Linked DNA regions of Homo sapiens: regions 1 and 2 are each reported to be linked to region 3. Evidence: microRNA targets listed by miRTarBase, many of them from high-throughput screens and not tested one by one. Region 3 holds a microRNA gene; each other region holds the end of a gene's coding sequence.
Evidence for each region. Region 3 holds the annotated microRNA hsa-miR-6077 (GGGAAGAGCUGUACGGCCUUC, at 2,243-2,263, opposite strand). A microRNA usually pairs through its seed, bases 2 to 8, with sites in the 3' UTR of a target mRNA and lowers its output. Matches are read on the target gene's strand: a 7mer-m8 pairs with bases 2 to 8, a 7mer-A1 pairs with bases 2 to 7 and ends in A, and an 8mer does both.

Region 1: miRTarBase lists MYH15 as a target of hsa-miR-6077. Seed matches in the 3' UTR shown: 8mer at 1,280-1,287.
Region 2: miRTarBase lists ATP6V1F as a target of hsa-miR-6077. Seed matches in the 3' UTR shown: 7mer-m8 at 3,374-3,380.

The regions. Positions count from the first base shown.
Region 1 is chr3:108,377,895-108,381,953 of GRCh38, reverse strand. It overlaps MYH15 (myosin heavy chain 15), which reads left to right. Exons shown (of 41, transcript NM_014981.3): 41 at 395-1,586. The coding sequence ends at 409. It overlaps HHLA2 (HHLA2 member of B7 family), which reads right to left. Exons shown (of 10, transcript NM_001282556.2): 10 at 3,669-4,059. It overlaps LOC124900545 (a long non-coding RNA gene), which reads right to left and starts at 414. Exons shown (of 2, transcript XR_007095998.1): 1 at 303-414. RefSeq lists an enhancer at 3,966-4,059.
Region 2 is chr7:128,865,100-128,869,158 of GRCh38, reverse strand. It overlaps ATP6V1F (ATPase H+ transporting V1 subunit F), which reads right to left. Exons shown (of 2, transcript NM_004231.4): 2 at 3,312-3,782. The coding sequence ends at 3,581. SPMIP1 (sperm microtubule inner protein 1) reads right to left here and starts at 2,829. Exons shown (of 2, transcript NM_001195150.3): 1 at 2,329-2,829; 2 at 1-493. The coding sequence starts at 2,749. The coding sequence ends at 384.
Region 3 is chr1:148,386,492-148,390,556 of GRCh38, reverse strand. MIR6077 (microRNA 6077) reads right to left here and starts at 2,275; the gene lies at 2,194-2,275. It also overlaps the pseudogene RNVU1-2. RefSeq lists an enhancer at 2,133-2,972.

The DNA.
Region 1 (4,059 bases), not on the chromosome of region 3:
CTTCACAGAAGAAAAGCCAAAAAATCCTCAACTGTCATATGCACAAGGAAGAGGTTTGCTGATAGAATTCTGTGTCAGGGCTGGGGAGCAAACTGGTGATGTGGCTGCAGAATCTTTCTCCTTATGGGGTTGGCAAAGGGGGGCGCTGCCTTCATTGGCAAGACAAGGCAGGCAGAAAATTGAGAGTGACCGAGCATGCCCTTGGGGTGAATTACCAGGGTCTGCTTTCTGTAATGCAGATAATTGCCTCAATTCCCTGCCTCCCTTTGAAGTTAATGAAGAGTTGGCTAAGGCCTGCTTACCTCTGGAAGGGACTCAGCTTGGTTCTGGACATGTGTTCCACTGGTGAAAATCACAGGAAATTCACAGAACACACTGACATTCTGTTTTTCAGGTTCAAGAAGAATAGCATCCCCTGCTTTGAAAGGACAACAGCTGGAGAAGTACAAGGAAGGTGCTGTTTCATGGCCAAAAACTTAGGTTGCATGGAAACATTTTTAAAAACATGTTTAAATTGCTTTTCACACCATATAAACAAGGCAATTAGAAAAATAATTAAAGGGAATATCATTGCTTCCACAGTTAATGGGGATTTTTTGATCCTCAAATGCAAGTAAACTACCTTCTAATGCTTCACATGACAGATTAAATAAATGGAAGAACCTTTTCAATTCTGATGTTTAAAAAATGAATAAATACTTGATCCTTTGTCCATATTTCCTCTTAATGGGTAGGACTCATAGAAGATGTCCTTAGACCAGTCACGCTTCATGGGGACTAGGGCATGTTGGTGAATGGTTTTTACTAAAGTTAGGCAACTTTGGCTTGATTCACCCCTAAATCTATGAATGTATATTGTGAGCCAGCAGTGGTAGAATGGAAGTCATAAGATCTCCTCAGCATTGTGATATAAATATAGCTATAGTTAGGCAATTTGAACATGTAGGCAAAACTCTCCTAATCAACACACATGTAGGCTATATGCTGGTACATGCTTTAAACATGGAGGTAACCCCACACGAGACATTCAGTGACAGGTAATATGCTGGATTTGTGCAGTACCGATTTGGCTCAGCTGGAGGAACATGTCCCGGAATTCCTCTCTCTCATGGTTCTGGATTGGAGTAGGTCATAAAGAAATTTGCATTAATTTGATCAGCAGCTATTTTATACTCATAAGGTCAGTGTACAGACCCAAGCATGGTGACAGCTTGAAAATATGACTCCAGGCCAAAAAGGGGAGCTAGAAGAGACCAGAGACAGCTCCCTGGACCCAGAGCTCTTCCAGCTCCTGCCAGCCTCCTCCTTCAGCTTTGCAAAGTACTGGCCAGGTGTGTGTGCAGCTCCATGGCAACCAGCATCAGCTTTTCCTGAGATCACACACAGCATTGCAGTGGAGGCCGTGAGACAGACATGGGTTCTGTTTGTTCTTATGGACTTCCCTTCATCCTTGCTGCATTCACAGTCGACCTACAGTGACTTCAGGCCCAGAACCAGATGCAGAGGGAACAGCCTGGCCTAGACTTCTCCACCAGCACCCACAATTGTGTAAGGCTGAAGCTCTATAATAAATCTTTATTCTGTCATTCTCTGATTCTGCCTCCCTGATCCAACCCTGACTCATATGGGTAGCTTGACGATTAATTCAGGGACTCAGTGGTATCAGAGGACCCAGGTTCATTCTTGTCGGAATCTCTTGTCGCCGTAAGAGGACTTCAGCAGTCCTGAGCATTTTCTCCCCATACGATAACCTGTCTCTTCTTAAAATGGAGAAACACTTTCCCAGAAACAGACCTCTGGAATAATTTTCCTCATACCCTAGTGAGCAGATTTCTTTATCTGCTTATGCTGAACCAGTCTAGTGGCAAGAGGACTGCAATTGTCAGGGTTGGCTCAGACAGATCAAAGTGGATGCTCTTGAAAAATCAGGGTACCATTTTGAGCAAGGTGAACCAAATTTGAGTTTTGTGGTTGGCGGAGAGGGATGCACAGCCACAGAGTGAACTAGCAGGTATGTGTGTCGGGCTGTATCCAAAGCAGTCGCTCCTTCTTACCATCGGTCTTAACGCAATGAGAAAACAACATGAAACATTTAACATGGAACTTTTCTAGGGTTTTTTTTTTTTCCTGGAATAGTAATTTTTTAAAACTTCAGTAAAAAATGTTTGGAATTATCCTTTAATAAGCCAATGTTTATATTCAGGAAACATCTCTATATCCCAAACCTTTTCTTAGAAATTTGCTGTTGTCATATTACCAATCCTGAAGTTAGGATGCTATTGTTTCTCCACACCCCAGGCACATACTCAGTAAAGTAAAACTTCAGCTTGGGGATGCATCCAGTTTTGTTATTAAGTATCATGTTCTCTCACTAGGACACAATTTTTAAAAAGGAACCAAGGCTAGGGGGAAGCAGAGATGGTAGACAAATATTATCTCAATGGAGTTTTTCTTCACAATGGAATTTTTTTAAAAGATATCTAAGTTATATTTATTTTTTTAAAAAAAATTTACTTTAAGTAAGTTCTGGGATACACGTGCAGAACATGCAGGTTTGTTACATAGGTATATGTGTGCCATGGTGGTTTGCTGTACCTATTGAACCGTCCTCTAGGTTCCCTCCCCCGCCCCCCACCCTGCAACAGGCCCTGGTGTGTGTTGTTCCCCTCCCTGTGTCCATGTGTTCTCCTTGTTCAGCTCCCACTTATGAGTGAGAACATGTGGTTTGGTTTTCTGTTCCTGTGTTAGTTTGCTGATAATGATGGCTTCCAGCTTCATCCATGTCCATGCAAAGGACATGATCTCATTCCTTTTCATGGCTGCATAGTATTCCATGGTGTTTGTATCACATTTTCTTTATCCAGTCTACCATTGATGGGTATTCGGGTTGGTTCCATGTCTTTACTATTGTAAATAGTGCAATAAACATACATGTGCATGTGTCTTTATAGTAGAATGATTTATAATCCTTTGGGTATATACCCAGTAATGGGATTGCTGGTTCAAATGGTATTTCTGTTTCTAGATCCTTGAGGAATCGCCACACAGTCTTCCACAATGGTTGAACTAATTTACATTCCCACCAAGAGTGTAAAGGCATTCCTGTTTCTCCACAGCCTTGCCAGCATCTATTGTTTGACTTTTTAATAATTAACATTCTGACTGGAATTCTTAATACTTTGCTATTTGTGATAACCCATCACAACATTGTAGCAAAAACAGAGTTAACTACATACAAGGAGAGGATTGTGAAACTGAGGTCAGATAAAATTGGACCAGGTGGCAGTTACACCACAATTCAGAATTTGCTTTCTCTTATAGAGTTGAAACCTTGATCTACTAAGTCACACAAAAGCCTGGTTATAGTGACAAGTTCACAAGCATTAACATTAGACTGTTTCTTTTATGTAAATTGATGACTAAAATTAAGGGAAACAGATTAGGTTAGCTGAGTTCTCCCTTCTCTTGCTTAAAAATTTATATGAAAATCTAAATTTATTAGAAGATTGATTAGCAATATGCCAATTGAGCCAGAAGAGTTGTTTAAATTATCTTCATGGCTAGTCACTCAACTATGCAAGCCTTGTGTGGTCAAGTGTAACCTAACTTCAGAGATTCTTATGTTCATAGTTTCATGTGCATCCATGTGAAGAGACCACCAAACAGGCTTTGTGTGAGCAATAAAGCTGTTTATTTCACCTGGGTGCAGGTGGGCTGAGTCCGAAAAGAGAGTCAGCGAAGGGTGATGGATTATCATTAGTTCTTATAGGTTTTGGGTTAGGCGGTGAAGTTAAGAGCAATGTTTTGTGGGCAGGGTGGATCTCACAAAGTACATTCTCAAGGGTGGGGAGAATTACAAAGAACCTTCTTAAGGGTGGGGAAGATTACAAAGTACCTTCTTAAGGGTGGGGGAGATTACAAAGTACATTGATCAGTTAGGGTGGGGCAGGAACAAATCACAATGGTGGAATGTCATCAGTTAAGGCTATTTTTACTTCTTTTGTGGATCTTCAGTTACTTTAGGCCATCTGGATGTATACGTGCAAATCACAGGGGATG
Region 2 (4,059 bases), not on the chromosome of region 3:
GGGGCGGGCAAGGAGGGGTGTGGCGGTGGCAGGAGGCCCCTTTCCCTGGCCTCCGAAATGACAAGCCGCTCTCTCCCCAGGAACACCCAGAACTTCCTGGAACTACTGTGTTCCCCTGGTGCTGAGGATCCCGTGCCTGCGAAGTAGTGCTCGCCCTTCCCAGCACCCTCTGGTCATTGCTGAGTCCTCAAAGGGATGATTAAAGTGATGAGGGTTACGGAAAAAGCAAGAGGGCAACTTGCAGGTCTGATAGTTTCAGAAAGGCCTGAATGCAACCTCAGGGACAGGGAGAGCAGAGGGGCACAGACACACACAGCAGCTTTGCCCCACCAGGAGGCCTGTTATTTCTTCTTCCCTCCCCTAAGCCCACACCTGGCCCACGGTCAGAGGGCCAGGTCTCGGGGATCAAGCAGTGCGAAGGCCCCGTTCTTGCGGAAGAATGACTCAATGCGGCACATCTTGCAGGAGACCAGTTCTTGCTTCACTGGGGGGCCTGGGAAAAGATGTCAGAGGCCAAGCATGGGTTCCTGAGGGAGGGACACGCAGAGCATGGGAGCCCTGTCTGTCTGCACAGCCCTAGGAATCCGTCAGTGGAGTAGCCACTTTGTGGGAAGAAATAGAAAGTGCTTTGGAGGAATGGGAGCTATGGGCAAATACTGGGAGCTGGCTGGATGCCAGGATACAGCAGCCATCTGCCATCATTACCCTAGCTTCAGGATCCTCTACCTGCAGGGAGGGGGGCCACCCTAGCCTGCTTGTCACAGGGACAGACTGTGGAGAGATGAGATTTCCTTCGGCCTCCTGCTCCCCGCTTCTAGGGCTCGCCTCCTGCTTTTGTTAGAAAGTTATTTCCCTGACTTCCCCTTTAGGGGCCTGGGGGAAAGGGATGTTTGGGGGCAAAATCTCAACTGAGTCAATCCCCAACCATCCACCTTTTCTGCAAGACACTCAAGCAGCTGGAGAAGGGTACAGGGCTGAGGAGTCTCACTTGACATTCATGAGCACAGACAGCAATGGGACGTGCAGCAACATCGCCCAGCAGCCCTGCCTGGCACATGCCTGTTCCACACCTTTCCTCTTCATCTCTAGTTACTCCACTGCCTCAGCTCAGCTCCCTCCCCGCTGATGGCCTTGACTCAACCTCACAGAAAAAAGACTCAGCCGAGATGGACAGGCTTCCTGCCAATGACATCCCCTACCCGCTCTGGCTCAGCCCTCCTGCCCCCACTCCCATCAGATTCCAGCAACTTGAGCTCCCTAGGAGATCTCATGGATTTAAATAGCACCTATAGGCCAGCCGGTGGCTCATGCCTGTAATCCCAGAACTTTGGGAGGCCGAGACAGGCAGATTACGAGGTCAGCAGTTCGAGACCAGCCTGGCCAATATGGTGAAACCCTGTCTCTACTAAAAAAACAAAAATTAGCTGGGCGTGGTGACACACGCCTGCAGTCCCAGCTACTCGGGAGGCTGAGGCAGAAGAATCTCTTGAACCTGGGAGGCAGAGGTTGCAGTGAGCCAAGATCGTGCCACTGCATTCCAGCCTGGGTGACAGAGTCAGACTGTTTCAAAAAGAAAAAGAAAAAAAAAAAGCACCTATATTCCAATGACCTCCGAATTTGCATCTTCAGCTCTGACTTCAATCCAGACTTATAGACACAGCCACCCTACAGACACTTCAAGCATAACATAGCCAAACACACATGGCTAAATAGGACCTGTTCATGCACGCTCCAGCCCTGACCTCTCCCAGTCTTCCCTGTCACTGCAGCTTTAGCTAAACAAACACCTGGGTGATTGATCTCTCTTCCCCTTATTCTCACATTCTATCCATGGGTGAGTTCCACCGAGTCTTCCCCCAAAACATCCTGAATTGATTTCAGCTCTATTGCTGATCCCTCAGGCCACTACCACAGGATAACCAAACAGATGCCCAACTCATGTGCCAGATTCTACCATTTCCCCTGAAAAAGCCACTGCCTACATACAGGTCAGGGTGACTTTTTAAAAGGTTCACCAGTGTCACTCTTGAAATCTGCTTAGAACCCTCCATCAGCTTCCCTGCACAACAAATAAAATCCAAACCCATCCTTATCATCTGGCTCTCAGCCTCGGGTCCTCAGAAAGGCCTTTCCTGACAATCCAATAAATAGCAGCACGTGGCCGCTGCCTCCCTGCCCACCGCCACTCCCTAGTTCTGTGGAACGTGTCGACACTTCTTGGCCATCTCCTTGCTCTGTTTATAGTCTGGACCCTTCACCAGGATGCCCACTCCCTAGCACATGGCTAGTGCTCTGTTTTTGAGGTGATTTCCAAGAGGTTGGGCTCACCCAGCTGCCAGCCATACGTGAAGCTGGTGGTGATGGGGAAGAGGTATCGCGTCTCTGGCATGTCCAGTTTTCGAGTGTTGAGGTAGCGGTACCGCCCCTGGAAGTCGTGGGAGATGCCTTCATACAGCAGGGCTCGGGTGATAGGTGGTACCGGGTACATTTCCGACTGAAAAGGCGCCTCTGGGACAGGGCTGGGCACCTTGGAAGGGGCTGACTTGGGGGCGGGTGGGGGTGAGAGTGGGGCTTTGGGGTGCAGGGTGGGCAGTTTGAGGGGCAGGCGGGCTGCAGCCTTAGCCTTCTGCTTGGCCTTCACCATCGACCCATACTTGCGGTACCATTCACAGCGCAACATCTTTTCCCTCAGATATTCCTCCTTCCAGAAGTTCTGCCGTAACGCGTCTATGTTGAGCTGCCGTGACATGGTGGCCAGGGAAGGAGTGGCACCAGGGTGGCCACAGCTGAGGGGTGAGCACAGCAAGCAGAGTGCTTCTGACGGCGAGTGGCTGCCCAGGCACAGTCACCTGGCAACCATGCCTCACCTCACACAGGGCCAGGGTTCTACTTGCCATGCCCCCAGCAGACCCCATGAGCCTGGCTTCCTGAGGCAGCCTGAGGCCAGGGCCCACTGGTTAAGAGCCCTGCTCCCCCCAAAACTCCCGCAGGGCCCTCGCGGGATCTGGCATCACAGACTCCCAGGTTTCGTGTGCTTTCTGCTTCTGTCCTTTGGATCTGGCCCCCTTCCCAGCCCAATGCCGAGCAAGGTGGGGGAAGCAGGAGCTGGGCTCAAGCCTCCTCCCATTCCTCCCCAGACCAGAGCTGGTCTTCTCTGATCCAAGGACCAGTCCTTGAGTTCTGCCTCCCGGCACAATCCTCCTGGGCCACCTCTTCTATGCCTGTCTTTGGCAGCACCTTTTCCATCCTTGCCAACCGAATCTGCCCCATGGCCTCACCCCACACATGTCCTTTCCAGCACCCAACCCATCTGGAGAGAAGCAAGAATATGACTTTAATTTAACATCAACAATGACACTGTGTAACAGCACAGGGAAGAGGTAGTGGAGGGAGATGGTCAGGCTTCCTGTTCCTTAACCAGCAGAGCCCCAGCAACCTAGAAGCGCCTCACCTAGCCTCTTAATGGAGTGGGAAGGAGCAGGGAATTGGAAATCAGAGGCTCAAAAAGTAAAGAAGGCTGATGGCAAGCCTGGGGAGAGGCCTGGAAACGAGGGAAGGGCTGAGGGCTATGAGGAGTCCCCTAGCGCAGGTCTTCGGCAGTGAACATGCCCCTGGCCCTGCGCAGGATGGAGTCCTTGGCGGCGTCATATGGGTGCTCCTTGGAGGGGATCTCCAGGACAGCGGGGATGGACTGCTGGTGGGCGTCCAGGGCATGCCGCACCATCTCTGCGATGTACTGGTTGATGAGGATGATGCCAATGTCATCCCGGTTTAGAAATTGCCTGTGGGGAGAGATGAGAAGGGAGTCCAGGACAGCTCTGGGGGCTGCCGTCTCTCCTACCCAGGCAGCCCTCTCCGAGTTGTTGGGCTGGGCTGTGGAGGGGAATGAGCATGACCCAGAGGGCACAGAGGACAAGGGGAAAGGCTGCCACGCTCAACCCTCTGTCAACCCTACCTAGAATCAATTTCATCCCAAAGCGGAGGGTCACGCTGATTAGGGTTGGCTTCTACAACACTGCCCGGAAGGCTTCCAAGTGAACTGGTAATGAAGATTGATTA
Region 3 (4,065 bases):
TGTACAGTGGGCAGGAAGAACCCATCAGGTGGTTACATCTGCAGGATGGTGCCAGTTCTTTCCACAAAGGCTGGTCAGATACCCAGAAAGTATTTCTCCACTACTACCTGGACAATGTGTCTCCCAGTCAGTCTACAGGGAATGGGGTCTGGATCAAGTATTTCACATTCAGCAGTTACTACGCTGTCACCTAATCCCTCATTTTCAATATTTTGCCATGTCTTCCAGTGGCCTAACTGGCCACCATGCCACAGAATCTTTACTTTGTGGTCTCCAAAGAAGAATTCTCCATTTGATGTTTTGTGATTTGAGCAATGGAATAGAATCTGATACTGGTGGGCTGGGGGAGGTCCCCGGACACTGGTAGGATCTCGACCCCAGCTGTGGTGTCCAGGCTCTTGACACCATCTCAAGAATGAGGTCAAGGATGAGTTAGCAAATAGTGAAAGAAGAGATTTATTGCAAAGCAGAAAGTACACACTCAAGAAAGGGGAGTTTGGGCATACCTGAGAGAGAACAATGGGTTCTGGGGTTTCATCTCAATGGGTTTCTTTAACCAAGGAGTGGAATATTGATGAAAATTCCTGGGTAAAGGTGGAGATTTCTCAGAACTGTGGTGCCATCCATTTTTACATCAAATATTGGTCTCAGAACTGTCATGGCACTGGTGGGTGTGTGATTTAGTATGTTAATAAGCGTATAATGAGGGCCTAGGTAAAACCTACGTCAAATCCAGCACCACATTGGGTCCAGTCAGTCTTAGCCAGCTTGGTCCACACCCTGGTTTTTCAGCATCTTATCAGCCCATAGCCTCAAGTCATGTAAATCTGCTGCCTAGAATTTGTTATCCTGTGACCACCCTGTATTATTCCTGTCTCAAATCTACTTGTAAATATTCAAATGGTCTTTGACTTGGGAATTCCAACTTTGCTTACTTCACAGTGTTTCCTGCATTATAATCCCATATAAGAAAAGATGATCCAGACATTTGTTAAGCATCACAAATAAGATGTATCCCAGGTATTTTTGTCAAATTTGGATTATTTTGGTTTTGTCTTTGCAGAATATAAAAAACTAACACGAGGTAAGCAATAAGGTCTGGAGATGGCTGTGCAAAAGATGACAAAGTGCAACACCACATTTGAGAGTGTCCAATCATTTCTTCTGTGGCAGCATATTTTTCCACAATACTGAATTTGGAAAAAAATAAAAATAAAAATAAAAAAAACTACAAGATTCATTAAACTTGACAACTGTTTTTATAACATTACCAGTGATAAAATCAGTAAGGAAGGCTGGTTTGCAGTCATCTGAGAAGCCTCTTTACTTTCATAAATATGGTTTCTCTGTGACATTGAACGGCTTCCAATTTCAAGCGGAATGCTACATTACAAGGATAAGTATGTGAAGAAAACCGGTTTCTTTTGTAGTCCTAAACGTTCTAGTCTGCGAAATAAAAGTCATTATGTGAAGAAGAGTACCCAGGCTCCATCTGGCCACCGAAAGTTTGCTTCACAAGATAGGCTAAGGACCAGCTTCTTTGGGCGAAAACAGATGCCGGGGCGGGAGGGAAAAAGGGAGAGGCAGACGTCACTTCCTCTTGCTGGTTCAGGCAGCGGGTTGGTCGGCTGACTGGCAGAAAGGCAGATGGGGCCTGGGAAAGGCACTGTCGGTGACATCACGGATAGGGCGACTTCTATGTAGATGAGGCAGCGCAGGAGCTGCTGCTTCCCCACCTGCTGCTTCGCCTCGAAGGAGTTCCCGAGCCTTGGGAGCGGGCTCAGGACCGCTGGTCCGGCCGGAGAGTCCCAGCTGTGTGTCAGGGCTAGGAGGGCTGGGGGGTGCGCGGGGCAAGCGACCGTGCGTGTAAAGGGTGAGGCGTACGGGGCGGAGGTGCAGGAGCTCATATTTACTTGGCAGGGGAGATAACATGATCACGAAGGTGGTTTTCCCAGGGCGAGGCTTATCCATTGCACTCCAGATGTGTTGACCCCTGCGATTTCCCCAAATGTGGGAAACTCGATTGCATAATTTGTGGTAGTGGTACTGCGTTCGCGCTTTCCCCTGATTTTTTGTAGTTTCAAGAATACGCTGTACTCTAAGGGCTACTTTTTTCTTTCATTGATTTGTGTCTTGGACGTGTTATTCTTACAGTGGAAGGCTGGGAAATAGGAATTAAGATGTCGCTTCTCCCACTGAGGAGAAATAGGGAGCGTCAGCCTTAACACAAACAAACTAGCGCGAAGGCCGTACAGCTCTTCCCTTTCTACGCAGGGCTGCTTTTTGCAGAGATTGGTCCATGGTCTCCAGTGTCTTGGGTTCTCACGCTCTGTGAAAATCTTCGTGGTTTTCTCTAGCCCCCAGAGTCACCTTTTACACAGCCCCTGCTTCTAACCGCAGCCCCCTCAGGAGTTTGTAGGATTTCTGTGCTAGCGGGGAATGTGTTCTCACCTCATAGAGCCAGGTACAAACTACGCAGACAGGCGCTGTTCTTTGGGATGAAAGCAGGGCCTTTGGGGCTCTTAGTGTCCCCGTTCATTTGCAGACATAACACGCTTACTTTGTGTAGGGGAATGGCTTTCCCGGAGCCCAGGTGCCCTAATGCAATTCGTGGAGGCCCGCAGGTCAGAACCGCAGTCTTACTTGTCTTGGCTGAAATGCGCTGCGATCCTCCCTGAAATATAAGGCAGGAAGTTTTATGAGCAGCGGGGTCCAGTTTCCCTATTATCTCCTGCTGTTTACATATCTAGTCTTTCTTCAGACTTTATTTAAATGACAACTTCTTGTTTGATGTCTCGCTTCCATATCCTACATCCATTGCCAGGCAACTTTTTAGATAGCACCCCGACCCATCCTTCCCACCCCCAAGCAGCCCTTTCCTACTTCTGGCGCCAGTGTCCTTCCCGGTCCGTCTTTCTTCAGGCCCTCCCTTATCACCTTCATGGACAGAAAATACTTAGCTCTCTTTCAACCTGCAGTTTGCACCTGACACGCGTCAGTACCCTGGCAAATTCCTTAATACCCCTTCTCAAATGGCACTGTAAATTCATCTCTTTTTAACTCCCAGAAGTATCTAATTGGTCTTGTCCCTGCATTGCATGAATACTAGTATTCCACTACAAAAGAAAACCCCAGGCCTAGAGATGGCGGTTCTGGGCATTGTGCCAGCATTTCCCAGGGTATGTTTTCTGACCTCACCTACTTCTGATCAACTGAGGTCAGGAGTTCGAGACCAGCCTGACCAACATGACGAAACTCCGTCTCTACTAAAAATACAAAAAAAAAAAAAAAAAAAAAAAAAGCAAAAAAAGCAAAAAAAGCTGGATGTGGTGGTGTGTGTCTGTAATCCTAACTACTGGGGAGGCTGAGGCAGGAAAATCGCTTGAACCCAGGAGGCAGAGGTTGCAGTGAGCTGAGATCATGCCATTGCACCTCAGCCTGAGCGACAGAGCGAGACTCTGTCTCAAAACAAAACAAAACAAAACAACAAAAAAAAACTAGGCCATCTGAGACATATTATTGGAGACAGTAGAATCCTGCATCCAACAGGCACTTGGTGCAGATCTGAACCCACTGAATTATTGGCTCATGTTCCGTCTGTTTTATTAAGTATCATGAGCAGAAATTGAGCTCTTTGGCTTTTACACACTAAGTATGGCTATAGGACAGGTCTCTCTCTCTCTCTCTCTCTCATTATTGTGTCATTATTTTTTGCCATCAGTGTGGGCTTTTGGTTTTGATGTTATGAAGTGAATTTGTATGGACAATTTCTGTTGGGTGGTGTTGACAAGGATCCAATCCCTGTTTGGTAATACATGACAGCTAATCTGCTCTGTGAGACTTTTTTTATTGTCTATTTATTGTCCTGAGAATAATGGTATTTCCTGATATTTGAGACTGCAGCAATGATAAGTTGTTCATATCTTGTCTTTCCAATGTTTGGTAAAAATTTTATGGGCCCAATAGTTGTCAATATCTGCAAGAGTGGCATCCCTGTTACAAGAGTGATCTTACTACTCAATGTCCCCCCTCCCATCAAACTTCGTTCCATAGGAAGTCTTGGCT